4 linked regions of the Homo sapiens genome follow. The protein of the gene in region 4 interacts with the protein of the main gene of each other region in a pairwise test. Each region holds a gene or a part of one and is shown on either strand. Other genes may lie near its edges. The genes, in order: SCHIP1, BOLL, NOL4 and SYCE1L.

Region 1 (2,905 bases), on a different chromosome or scaffold from region 4:
GTGTGTGTGCATGAGCATGTACATAGTAGTATATTTTAAAAATTACTGTGAGAACTGTAATTAGCTACAGTGGAATCAAGTTCACTGGGCATCAAAATATCTTGATCTGGATTTGCTTAAGTGAGGCATATGAGTTAGTCACGAAAATGTTTGATTCTTGTTACACATCAACAGGGCTATAAGATGGTCTGCTAAAGGGGACAGATTTTTTAAGGAATGGAGAGCTATCGATAAGGTACTTTTTCCTGAGTACCTTTATTGTTAGTTGAATAGTTCCATTTATTTATGGGCTGCTGAGTGTAGCAAGGACACTGTTGTCACTCCCCTGTTTCTGAAAGTATTTGTAGTTTGTCTTCCCTGATATGACACATTCTGCATAAAACCAGTGAGTTCAACTTGACATCACTGACTACCCAAGTCCAGGCAGCACACACAAACTATTCCTAAACGTTTGATTATAGCTGGAAACCACAGCCCTAGATGTTTTTATCTTGCCAAATTTATCATTTCCTAAAATCGTCCTTTAAAACCATTGTCTTTTGCAGCCTTCAAACCCCATCATTCTCTGAGAAGTGACCATTCAAGTGATGTCAACAGCTTGGCCACACTCCTCCCCCTCTGCCCCACTGTCTACCTCTGCCCCACTGTCTAGCTGCTTCACTGGCCTATTTTTGGGTTCACAGGTCATAATAGAGCTTGTTTTTGGTTTTGGTTGTTTGTTTGTTTGTTTGTTCTTTGAGACAGAGTTTCACTCTTGTCACCCAGGCTGGAGTGCAATGGCATGATCTTGGCTCACTGGAACCTCCACCTCCCGGGTTCAAGCAATTTTCCTGCCTCAGCCTCCTGAATAGCTGGGATTACAGGCGCACACCACCATGCCCAGCTAATTTTTGTATTTTTAGTAAAGGCAGGGTTTTGCCATGTTGGCCAGGCTGGTCTCAAACTCCTGACCTCAGGTGATCCACCAGCCTCAGCCTCCCAGAGTGCTGGAATTACAGGCGTGAGCCACTGGACCTGGCCCATAATAGAGCTTTATAAATAAGAAGACTCACCCTATCCTCACTGCCAAGACCATGCCCTTAGGATTAATTGGGGGGAAAAACATGCAAACGTGGAATATCTTTACATCCACAAAGACCTGCCATTTGTTAGACATTGGCTTTTGCAGGAGTGAATTAGATTTTTGGCTCCAGGTTTCTGTCAGGAGTCTTAGTTAATATCTAGGTCTGTGTCTGCATGGGTCTTTAGATAAAGTAGTCACTCAGTTACTCTTATCATAATACCATGTTTCGACTTTTGGCTTCGTGCTTATTTCCATCTGTTATTTCCTTATTTGCTATTTATTCCTTTCTTGTCTCATATTCCCCATGAGAACAGAGACCTCACTGTCTTGCTCACCATCAAATACCCATGGAAGACACATATTTAATATTTGTTGATAAAAGTATCCCAGATGTTTATTTATTTTCATTTTCAAACAGAACTTTTCTTCTTAAAAGTAGTAATGTCTAAAAGTCTCAGATTCATCCAGTGGCTTACTAAATAAAAGGAATCATACACAATATGTAAAAATTAAAGAGTTCAAATCAGAGTTCAAAGAGTTTGAATAAGGTACTTTTTCTTGATTCTAATCTATTTCACTGTCAGTAACTCTGAACTTCAGTTTGCAGGATGCTGTAGCTATTGATTGAAAAGCAGTTTGGATCTCTCTACATGATGCTAAATAATTGTATTAATTGTTTTACAGACATGCTGAAAGTCAGCAGAAGCACATGGCAGAGAAAATGCCTGCAAAGTGAAAAGAAGCCATTCAACCAGAGAACAAGCTAGAATTTATTTTGCTTCTGTGGTTGTAAAAATGCTGTTGCTAAAGGTGGCGCAGAAACAAATATCAGTGTTAGTCATTGATAATGTCTGAAGCTTAATGTCCAGTGATTGGCCTTTGCTTCTTAATTTATTTTAATTTTTTACTTGTGCCACTTAATATCAGGCATTTTAATAAAATATTGTTACAAAAAATGTACAGTACTGACACCACCACAAATCATGGTTAATAAAAGAGAGTAGTTTTAACTTTATTTTTATTTGTTTAGAGATTTTAAGTTGGAACAGTATTTTCCCATTGACTACTTTTCATTCTTCACTGTAGTTTTAAAGAAGAACTGTAAATGACGGTGCTATACAAGTCAAAAAATACATGCCTGCCTCGTAGTGAAGTTGTAGCTCTCCGTAATATGTATATTTTACTCAGTTTTCAACATTTTGTGAATGTTGACTACCTGAAGTTCCTTTTTAGATGTGCTATTAACATTCTGTTGGATTCAGAGGGTTCCTTGAAAGTTTTATGTATAAATATGTAAAATAAAAATTAAAACTTTGTTTCATATCATATGTCTTTTTGCTCACTAACAAGGCTTATACTGGCTTAACCCTTCTGCAACTAAATTCCCCACCAGGAAACTTTTATCAGTGAAAAAACAAATTGCTCCAGAGGACACACAAGTGGCAAATTGCCCAGAAAATTATGAGCGTGAGTGCGTGTCTGTGAGTATGTGTGTGTGAGAGAGTGATCCGAAGAACACCAAAGGTCAGTAGCATCAGAGCCTGCACTTCTATTATTGCTTAAAGAGATTCATCTGGAATTTTAGCACTTTAGTATTTAATAGCTGCTGGTCTTGTTAGGGCACTATGATTGTATCAAACTCCATTTAGTAAATTCACCACGTGAACAAATGATGTTTACACTTACTCTTTCTCCAAGGCCAATTGTTGCTATTTTCAAATTTTTAGCCATTCTGTTGGTCTCATGAAAGAAGATTCCAAGTCTAAAGCAGATTACAGACTGTTTCTTAATAAGTGGAGAGTTTCAGAAAATAGATTTAATTAGCTAATGTTCATGTAGTGA
Region 2 (3,597 bases), on a different chromosome or scaffold from region 4:
CTGATATTAGTTCTATGTTTTCACTTTCAATATTTTTACTCTGATTAATTTTAAATTAGTTTCTAATTAAAATTTTTCTCATTAGTAAGTCTAAATTATTAAATTACTTCTAATTACTTTTGCTATATTAAATGATATTTTCATCACGAAAGATTTTTTTTCCTTTAATGATGTAACTACATGGAATATACTTAAGCATCTTTATGTATATAAATTTTTTCCCAGCCAAAAAAATTGAGATATATTATTTTGTGGCAAAAATATTCAGTTTTTCCACCAACTTTGCTAAAATAACTTTATTAGATGAAAGAAACATGATCTTTTAATAAAGTTCTATAAAAAGTCTTATATTTCAAAAAAGAACCATGCAAAAATATTTAAAAATACATTAGTTCTCAATACATACGAGGGATCCCTACTTGTTGTTTTCTTATTGCTGGACCAATGTTCAGCTTCTTATCCTTATAATTAAGTTTTTCAGCCTAAAATAAAGAAAAAAGAAATTATTTTATTATTTTAGCACTATTATTTATAAAATCAATAAGGAAAAACTAGTTAGAAAGAATTTCAAAAATTCAGACTATAATATTCTTTCAAAGCAGCAAGGAATAGTGGGAAAGAGCCGTCTTCAGACTGAAATAGATCTGGGTCTGACCGCAATTCCCCATTTTCTCCATTTGTAATACAGTCAATCCTCATTACTCATGGATTCTGTATTTGTGAATTTGCCTACTTGCTAAAATTTACTTGTAATCCTAAAATTAATATTTGTGGCAATTTTGAGGTTATTAGTGGACACGTGAAGAGCGGCGGAAAATTTGAGTAGCCTGATGCGCATGCTCCCAGTTGAGGTCAAATAAGGCGATATTCTTTCTTCTTGTTCCAGTGCTCATACTCTAAGAGAGAGCTTTCTATTTAGTGCCATGTTTTCTCCATTTTTGTGCTTTTTGTTGGTGATTTGGCTATTTAAAATGGCCCCCATGTGTATTGTTGAAGTGCTGGCTAGCACAAGAAGACTGTCATAGGCATTATGGAGAATATATATATTAGATGTGCTTAATTCAAGCATGAATTATAGTGCTATTGGCCATGGCTTCAATGTTAATGAACCAGTAATCTGTTATATATGATGCCTTTAAATGGAAAACCATATAAAACAAGGTTATATATTGATAGGTTGATGGCAATATTGTGACCAGAGGTTCTTGGGAACATTACCTTGTACTTCCCCTAGAAAGAGGAGTTCAGCATTTGCTAATTCAGTGTTCCTAGCAATGTTAGAGAACATAACTGCCACAAATAACAAGAATTGACTGTATTTGATTTTAATAACATACAATTCAAATTCTACTTTTTTTCTAAAAAAGTTAAATGTTATATTTGCCTTAACTTAAAGTTATTACACTGAATTGCTGGCTATAGGCTTTTTTTCTGTGAATATTCTTAGTTTATATAATGTTTTTCACAGGAGGGAAATCATCTCAGATAACCTCACTGTTGGAATCCACATTTGTAGTGTTTTTTAAACATTCAAAATGCTATTAACACTTCGCAAAAGATATATCCCCAAGTTCTTAATTTAAGTAAATAAAGCGAAACATTATATTACAGTTTCACAACCATACTTGTAGTGATTTTGGAATTTGCTCTTCTGCAGATTAAGTTTCCTAGAGACCAATGCCAATCTTAAGATGCAAACCTTTTTTAAAAAGCAGTTGATTATTGTATTTGAACCCCGAAAAGATTAGTTTCAAATACAAAATTTCCAGAAATGAAGTTAAATACACCAAAAGATCATACCTCTTGTAAAATTTTTTGTGCATCTTCTTGTGTTTCAAAAGTGACGAAACCATACCTAAATAAATGCATTAATTATTACTAATTAATCATTTTCTTAGAATGTTATATTAATTATATTAAAATGTTTAAAAATTTTGTTTTTAAATCATCGGCCACTGTAGGAGTAGGCATGTTTCTATGCTGCACTAGCATGGGAATCTTAGAAGAATCATTCACAGCCTAACACTGTCACTTTTAGTCAGGAACTAAAAGAAAAAAAACCCCTGAGATCTTGAAACAGCTTCAGCTCTCAGCTGTATGCAGGAAAGAAAAGCACAAGAGATTCATGCTGTTGCTTAAAAATTGGGGATGCAATAAATTTCAATCCAGAGCAATAATCTCCTTTTAAACTAATAGAAGTTTGGCTAAGAGAAATCAAAGTAGAAAAATAACTAAAAAATTTAAAATTTCAACACAATAAAATTTCTTATATTGGTGAATGACAATGTAAATGTATTATTTAATTATTATTATTAGCACATATAACTGATAATGTAATTATTAGTATATTCCCAAACAATATCAATTAAAAATATGTACAACCCAGATTTCACATCTGTTTTTCATACATAATTAACTTCAAGCACAATTCATATAATGTTGAAGATACAAATACACATAAATGATGTGCTCCATGTCCAAAAAGCCACAATAGGTAGAGAAAAAAGTAACAAAAGAAAGAAAAAATGTATCTCTCAAAACATAATTGCTATTTAGATAACTTAAGTAAACTCTTCTGAGTAATGCTAAATATCTTCACTATTTTCTTCAATTCATAATTACTGGATCATATACAAAGTTTCTTCTTTTAAACAAAGGAATTTCTCTTTATCTATTTGCCCAAACATTAAAAAGTTAAGGAATTAGTTTTACGCTATTTTTTTGGTAGAACACACACGCCACCCAGTGGAAAAGGCATAAAATACAGTTTACATTTACATTTCCATGTATGTTTTCCAATGATTAAAAAATGGTATTACCAAAACATAGCAAATTCTGTTAGTCAAACAAAAGAGGTAAATCTCACTTCACCTTAATATTGTTTGGCATTCTGAGGAAGTATCTCATCTGTTTATAAATAACCTTTCTGTAGAATCCCATCTCTTCCAGCATATCCATCTGTCGAATGTTGTTTCTCACCAATACCACCTCAATGGGTCCCTTTTCTTATGCCTATAAATATGTATGTCTCGTCTCTCTTTCAAGAAAGTAAATACAATACTTTACTGCCTTATCTATTTTCTTTTAACTTTGCAGTCCAACTCCTTAAGTGAGTGTACTATGTAAACTATCTTTTTCCTTTCTGAAATTTGGCTTTGTACACATAGCATTCCACTGAAACAGCTCTATACACATTTAAAGACACAGTCTATTACTTTCTTCTCAATTTTCATTATCATTGATATAGCAATTAAAAATCATTCTCACTAGAATTATATTTCTCATACTGGTCCCCTAATTAGGTCTCTGAGGCACAACCTACAGACATTTCTTGGTGTCAGCTGTTTTCAAATAAAGCTCTCTATGGCCTAAAGCAGGGATACAATTCCAAAAGAATCTGATTCCTTTTGCTTCTCATTCCTCAGCTAATGTACATCTGCTACTTACATTAAGTGCTTGCTGCCTACCACTGAATGGTCCCTCCACCCATGCAAGAATAACTTCTCAACAAATTAAGAAATATTACAGTGTCTCCTCCCTCCAAAATACACACACACACACACACACACACACAAGGAAATCAAAAGGTAGGAGGAA
Region 3 (3,597 bases), on a different chromosome or scaffold from region 4:
GCTACTAATAGGACAAGGAAGAACCAACGGAAAAATAAAAAACTGGTATCTCAAGAAATAAGTGTGGGATAGTCTTCATACACGAACAGGGTCATATTTCCTCTTTATATTCAGAGGAAATCTCCTGCCCCTTAATACTCAAGCCAGAATGGCCTTTACTACTGGTCCCCACTGTTCCCTGCGAGCTGACCTATGCTGGGGACTTGTCATAGATGATTTATTCTTCACAACTCCACAAAGAATCACTAAGTCAGCTAATAAGCCACATTGCTGATATTCATTCTCGGGATCTATTTGACCCCCAAATCCTATGCTACAGGATCTCCCAAAGTACTTTAATGAAAAGAAAAATGCATGGGCTATCAACAGCAATGTCCACTATAGAAGCAAAAATGTGCTTCCATCTCAGTGACCACTATGATGATTTGTCTTTGTGTCATAGATACAAAGTATCATGATAAATAACTGGGTCTGTAGCAGATTCCAGATCAAGGCCTAATATAGGTGCCTTAGGCATAAAGTTAGGCCAGGTGGAAAGGTATACAGGACTCCTCATGGGGTATTATTTCTTTCACTCTGATGTAGCATAAAGGATTTATGACCAAAACCACAGTCAGAAAAATAACAAAAACAGTTACTGTTTATGAGTCAGTCCATGAATATTCATTATAATCACTGTACAGTAATCAATTAGTAGTATGCACAGCAAGAACAATATGAAATCTGAGGCTACAGATTGCAGAACTGAATAAATCATCATTTGTAAATAGCACAACTAAAGATAATGCATTTTCCTTTCTGGATGGAAATTCATTTAAGACCTGTATTGGAATAAATATAAGAAAGAAATATATATAAGAAAGGCATAATTTAGACCTTTGTGTCTGTTCCTACAAATATAGGTTAAGAAAAGTATTACATCTTTTGATTATACAGTTTCAATATTCATATTCATTACTTTCTTTGCTTGATACTGAAAGACAAAAACATGAGCTTACCAAATTCCTAATGTTTTATACAATGCAGAGGACTTTTTAAAAAGAGCGTTTAATAAATTTTCTCCTTTTCTAAGTTTACCATTCACAATATCAAATGGTATAATGTGTTCTGGTAGTTTAAACTGCAAGTGTGATGTTTCCACTAATTGTTGCCAGAAAACGTTAATCAGGATCAAAAGCTTCTAAAAACAAACTACACTGGAACTACCAAATGTGTAAAACAGAGTTACCATAGTTAAGTGAATTTAAAACTATCGCTGCTTAAAAGTTGGATGTAATCAATGTCAACCATTTGCTATATCGTTTTCGGAACTGTTTTAAGTCATTCATCATTTCATTCTTCTAAATTTCTGACACTTTTAATGAAAGAATGTATAAAAATAACAGTGGTACTATCTAAAAAGCAGATGGGTTGCTCAACAAACTGCATATGCGCGTGCGCGTGAGTGTGCAGTGCAGGCGGGCTCGCAAAAGCACAGGTCCCACACCAGACCTAAAATGGCTGAGTTGCCGGATGTTGTTGCTTGGTGACCAAACAGTATCTACTCCATCAAAAAGCAGTCTAAACATCAGTGGCAGATATGTCCCCTCAGGTTTAGACATGACCAGGACAAATATTAAAGGACATATTTATCCTTTCCAGTAGTCAATATTTTTATTTTAAGTCAGTTGTAACTTGCTCGATTTTATCATCAGTTAAGTTTAGGCTTTAGGGGGAAGAGTAGTTGGAAAGCTATATTTCTTTTGGGAAAATAAGAGTAGAACCAAGCTTCTTTAACTATGAGACTTAAAGATAGTCTTGTTTCAATTAAGTCTATGTGGTGTGTCTACTCTGTTCTAGTATAACCTCCCAGGTGCCATCAGTCTCTCTTTCTTTCATTAAACTAAAGTAGATAATTAGCCTCAGCCTGTCCTCTCCCCTTTTCTCTTTCCCTTTTCGCAGTAGTAATGATGTCTAATTATCAGCAGCAGTGGATTACTGCAACATCAGGAGCAAAGCATCTCTTACTGACAGCAAAGCCAGCCGTGAACCCTCAAACCTCAAGCAGCTAAGAATGATTCTTAGTCTGCACGAAAATACCATTCAAATACAGTATTTTATTTTGATCAATATATGCCTTGGAATTAAGAGAAAATATATTTTTGTCTTCTTGGTGACTGTACTCCTACCATCGGAAAGAAAAATCAATGTATCATTAAGGAAGGAATAATTTGAAATGTAGGGAAACACATGATAAAAGGGGATCCTTTATTTTTTAACTCATTGAAATGATGATTGGCTGTCTCTCAGAGAAGGAGGAGCCTATAATTCTATGTCGGGAGCAGTATAAAAATTTTATAAAGAGCAATAGACGAGTTCATAAATTAAAAACCTCTTCAATATTTCAAAACAGGCTTGAATGAAAAGCAGAGCTCTTAAATACTACATGAGAACCATTATCTAACAATCACCTGATGAATTATATTCTCTCCCATAAATATATGGAATCTTTACTGAATAAACACGTGTTACTTTAATATTATCCCTGAAGTTGTCACTCTATACTAGATGTCTTAGCAGTAATTCTTTAGCTATTCTGCATAAATTTTTGACTGAAAATAGTGGTATATGAATGCGTGAATGCTAGTTTGAATAACTGACATTTATGATGATCTTAGTATCTCTAAAATTGTTCAGAATTTATGTTATTTAAAATAGTCAATCCTTTAAAAGGACACATATGTTAACACATATAGTGGGTGTAGTCAAATCCATATGAGTATAAACTCATTGTACCAATATCCACGTGAAGCTATCTGACAGTTAGAGGGACCTAAGTTTAACATAAAAGGAATGAAAAATAAACTTCCCAACTAACAGTGTTTCTTTAAAACATACATGATATTATGAAATAATACCTTAAGTAAAGATATCTTAAATGATTTTATCCATTCAGTTAGCTCAGTTTTGTCCAAAGGAAAATGCATGTTTATGTTTTGAATTCTAACAATAAATTATTTTTCTACATCATTTCTTGATATTATTCCCAATACAAATTAATCAAAGCACTTCATTCTGTATATCAGATTTCTGGCTCATCCAGATGTAAATAAACCTCAGTTCTAAATCATGCCAATCTAGTCCTCATTATTTAGGAAAGCCAGACAATAATCTCACCATTGTCTTTAGTAGTGCCACATGCTAAAGGAGAAGACACCTTTATAGGTCCAACTCTTAGAAATCTCCCAACAATAGTACATTGTTAAAAAAAAAAAAAAAACCACCACAGAACTTTTATATGTGTTTCCATTTCACTTTTACTTTTGGTTCCCAATTTCTATATAAATTCTAAAATAAATATACATCCTTCAAACAACTATTTCTAATTAATCTCAGGAAACCATAAACTGATTTCCAAACCTAAAAGACCCTTCCAAATAATGCTTTAAAAAAAACTTTTCATGCACATATTTTCAATTCAATATAATATACCTCCATTAGAGATAGAATAGCTTTCAAAGCGTCTCCTTTCTAGCATCCTCCAGGAATACTGCACCGGGAAACAGTTGCCAGTACAGGAGGGGGGAAAGGAAGAAATGCTCAAGAAACCCCAAAGCG
Region 4 (3,597 bases):
CCTCTGAGCCTCGCTTTCCTTCTCTTGGCAGTGCATCTGGAGGATCCTCAGTGCCTCTGTGGGGAAGGAACCAAGGGGACCCTTTGAGAGCTCTTGGGGAGTCAGGGTTGGCCAGAGGTAATAGGCCCCACATCATGTCAGGCATTGGAGGGCACTGTGAGGACTTGGGTGTTTACTCCAAGTGATGTAGCAATCCAGGAAGAGATCTGTGCAGAGAGGGAAGCACCCTGCCTTAGGTTTCAGTGGGATTCCTCTGGCTGCTCTGAGGAGCATAGACTTTTGTGGGGTGGAAGAGTAGAATAAGGAAGACACAGCAACTGGTAAATACCTTGCTTTTTGCCCAAGACCTCCTCTAGGTGCACTTTCTCTCCATTCACTGGAAAACACAATGACACTTTCTGCCTCCAGGCACCCCATTGCCATCCCCAGTGCAACTTCATATAAGGGGAAAGCCACACAGAAGGTGTAGTACAGCCCTAGGAGAGGTGAGGTATCTTCTTGCCACCCTTGCAACCATCTCCCAGAAGGACCATCCTGATCCAGCTTCTCCCCCTCTATGCCCACATTCTTTGTAAATGTTGAAGGAGTGAAGACCCTGAAGAATGTACAAGGTTTACACTGAGGAGAAAGATGGCTATAAAGAAATACACACACAGTGTCAGGTGGACATAAAGGCTCTTAAGAAACAAATCAGCCAGGGGCGTGAGAATGACCAAGAGAGGGCGGGATTCTATTCTTAGATGAGACCATCAAGATAGGCCTATCAGGGTGAAATTTGAGCTGAGAGCTGAAAGATGACATGAGACAGTGAAAGGCAATACAGATTATGTGAGCTAAGAGCATTGTAGGCCAGGGAGCAGCCTGTGCAAAGGCCCTGAGGTATGCACAGGAACATCTGCAGTGTTGATGGGTCCCTCTTTTGGCCCCACTTACAGGAGTCTAATTCCCTATGCAGGGCCTCCCAGAGACTGTGGGTCTCTCTCAGTTCCTCACTGGATTTCTTCTTTGCTGGGCCAAGAAGGGAAAAAGACACTGTATGAGTGTAGTCTCTAGCCTTGCTGTTCTCTCGCAAATATGACATTGCACAGTCATCTTCAAACAACCCTAGAGGGGCCTAGATTTTATAGATGAGGAGGTGGATTCATTATAAATCCAGTCACTTCCTGCTCGCCCCAGCTGGCCAGTCTAAGTCCCCAAGTTTACCTTGCTGAAGATCATTAATCCGGCTAATCAGGTCCTCTATCTGTGGCTCCAGGCTTCCCTCTGAAGAAAGAAAGGAAGAAAGAGTGAGCCAGAGAAGACTGGTGTCTGGCTGTCCAAGGCAGACGGAGAAGCACTGTGTCTGCTGCTATCAATTAACCGGCATATATTGAGCGCCTGCTGTGTGTTGAGCTCTGCCAGAGCCCCTTGAAGGGCTTGCATTCTGGGTTGGCAAGATGGACATTGAGCAAAGATAAATAAATCAATTCAGGTGGCAGTAACTGCTGTGAAGAGAAATAAAGTGAGGCAAAGTGTTGAAGAGCAAAAGGGTAAAAGGCATGTCTGGGGATATGCAAAGGCCCCAGATGAGAAGAAGGAAGCAGGTCCTGCAGTTCTGTGGGGGTAAAGAGTATGGAGGGGGGACCCATTCCAGGCAGAGTGCAACAAGGCAGAGGGAACAAGTGCAAATTCCCTGTAGTGTGGCAGGAGCGGGTGAGGCACGTGTCCAAAGTAACAGTGAGGGGCTGGTGTGGCTCAGGTCTAGTGAGCAAGTGGAGAGTAGCAGAAAGTAAGGTGGGGGAAGTGGGAAGTGATATCACTAGGGCCTCTTGGGCCACCGTGGAAGCCTTTAGATGTAACTCTGAGTGTGGTGTGAGCCAATGGAGACGTCCCATCTGCCCCGCCCTGTCAAAATCCAGGCAGGAAGGGTTGTCACTCTGTCAGTCTGGGCTCTGGTACTGGCCTCATCTGAGAAATGGGGAATCCCTGCTTTTACACTGTTGGTGGCAGCTTGCAAGTTTCCCAGTGACAGGGTGATCACTATCCCTTTAGGGAATCACCTCTAACTTCTCATAGCCCCTGTTTCAGTGCTCTGTACGCAGAAGACTTCCTTCTCATCCCTCTCTGGCTTCAAGGTTGCCAACACGGAACTGGGGCAAAAAGCTGTCCAACCCTTGCCAGATCTCACTGCTGACCCCTCAGACACTCTGGGGTTAATAAACTCAGACCATGGATTTTTCCAAGGTCACCAACTCCAGCTTCTGTGATTTCCAGGAGAGTGGGTGCTCTCCACGGTGCTGATTATGACTGACAGAAATCTCTGGGGGTCTTTGTTTTACTGGAAATGATCAGGTTGGATCACTGCATTTCTAGCCCTGCAATTTCTCTCCCTAATTTTACCGTAGGCAGCAGTCCCAGTGCACTTCTTCTGCAGGCAGCCACAGAATGGGAGCGGGGAGGCTGCTGCTTTTGTTTGGAATAGACTGACGTGATAGTATTTTAAGATGAGAATGGGCTGGGGGTCTCACCTCTGGCCAGCACTGCCTCAGCTCTGATGTAGATACTGGGTGCACACTGGCTCCCAGGTTTCCCGCAAAAAGCAAAGCAAGGTGCAAAACCAACTGCATTTCCATTTGTGTGTAAAAAGGGAGGACAAAAAATATACATCCATGAATGCATTTTTTAAAAATCTCTGGAAAGATACTTAAGAATTGAAAAACAATAGCTGCTTGCCCATGAGTCAGGGAAATAGATGACTGGTGTGTGGGGGGAGGGAGTAGGGATGGCGGGGGAACTGGTTTTTCCATTCCTTTAAACTTCTTGAATTTTGAACTGTGGGACTGTATTCTTGGTTCAAAGAATTAAACTGTATAAGAGGGAGAAAGTGCAATGGGATAATTTCCTGAGGTTGTGAGTTCAGGGGGCTGAATTTGTACCATGTCTTTCTGACTTGAAACCCCAGGCTGAGGCTCAGAAACAAAGAGACACATGACCTTTCTGCAGCTTTATCACCATTGCCAGCAAGTCTTCAGTCTTCAAAGACTTGGCTTGCCCTGTAGAAAGGAAAATCAAAATTACAGGACACAGCGAGAGTGAGAGGGGAGAGAGAAGGGAGGCAGGAAGTCCCAGTGGGCTCTGCAGACACCCGTGGGCTGGGGCTAAGGATGGAATGACAGACAGGTTTCCATCTGAAGCAGGGCCCCCGTCTCTTGCCCTTGAGGTTTATAGTGTGTGCTAGATAAATCAGGACCCCTAAGGGTCAGCTTCTCCCTGAGGGGTTAAAAAACACCACCACAAACATCCCCTTAATGAAACTCAGGGGTGAGAGAAGAGAATGCATGTTTGCTGATGCTGCTGTTCAAGATCATTATGAAGTTCTAACCAGAACAATAGGGCAGGAAGATTTCATATGAATTTCTTTGAAATAATAATAGCTCATAATTTATAAATTCTTAATGAACTGATAGATCTAGGTAATAGTTACTAATGGCTACTAACATCAAAAAAAGACAACTGGATATTATGAGCCTCTCTCTTTTTCTTTTTATACCCTGCAGCTCCAGCTCAAAGGATTTTTATTTTTATTTTTAATATAGAGAGTTTGTTTCAGCTAAGTTT

What was found.
Region 1: the proteins of SYCE1L (region 4) and SCHIP1 interact in a two-hybrid assay, tested with the Homo sapiens proteins (one large-scale study listed by BioGRID).
Region 2: the proteins of SYCE1L (region 4) and BOLL interact in a two-hybrid assay, tested with the Homo sapiens proteins (one large-scale study listed by BioGRID).
Region 3: the proteins of SYCE1L (region 4) and NOL4 interact in a two-hybrid assay, tested with the Homo sapiens proteins (one large-scale study listed by BioGRID).

Annotation. Positions count from the first base shown.
Region 1 is NC_000003.12:159,894,976-159,897,880, forward strand, and holds the end of SCHIP1 (schwannomin-interacting protein 1), read left to right. Parts: intron 1-1,747; coding exon 1,748-1,799; 3' UTR 1,800-2,384; downstream 2,385-2,905. Other genes in the region: IQCJ-SCHIP1 readthrough transcript protein, read left to right, coding at 1,748-1,799.
Region 2 is NC_000002.12:197,775,259-197,778,855, forward strand, and holds part of BOLL (protein boule-like), read right to left. Parts: intron 1,856-3,597; coding exon 1,801-1,855; intron 483-1,800; coding exon 407-482; intron 1-406. UniProt on the Homo sapiens protein: Probable RNA-binding protein, which may be required during spermatogenesis. May act by binding to the 3'-UTR of mRNAs and regulating their translation.
Region 3 is NC_000018.10:34,218,362-34,221,958, forward strand, and holds part of NOL4 (nucleolar protein 4), read right to left. Parts: intron 1-3,597.
Region 4 is NC_000016.10:77,205,876-77,209,472, reverse strand, and holds part of SYCE1L (synaptonemal complex central element protein 1-like), read right to left. Parts: intron 3,033-3,597; coding exon 2,973-3,032; intron 1,264-2,972; coding exon 1,204-1,263; intron 1,009-1,203; coding exon 934-1,008; intron 377-933; coding exon 329-376; intron 57-328; coding exon 2-56; intron 1-1. UniProt on the Homo sapiens protein: May be involved in meiosis.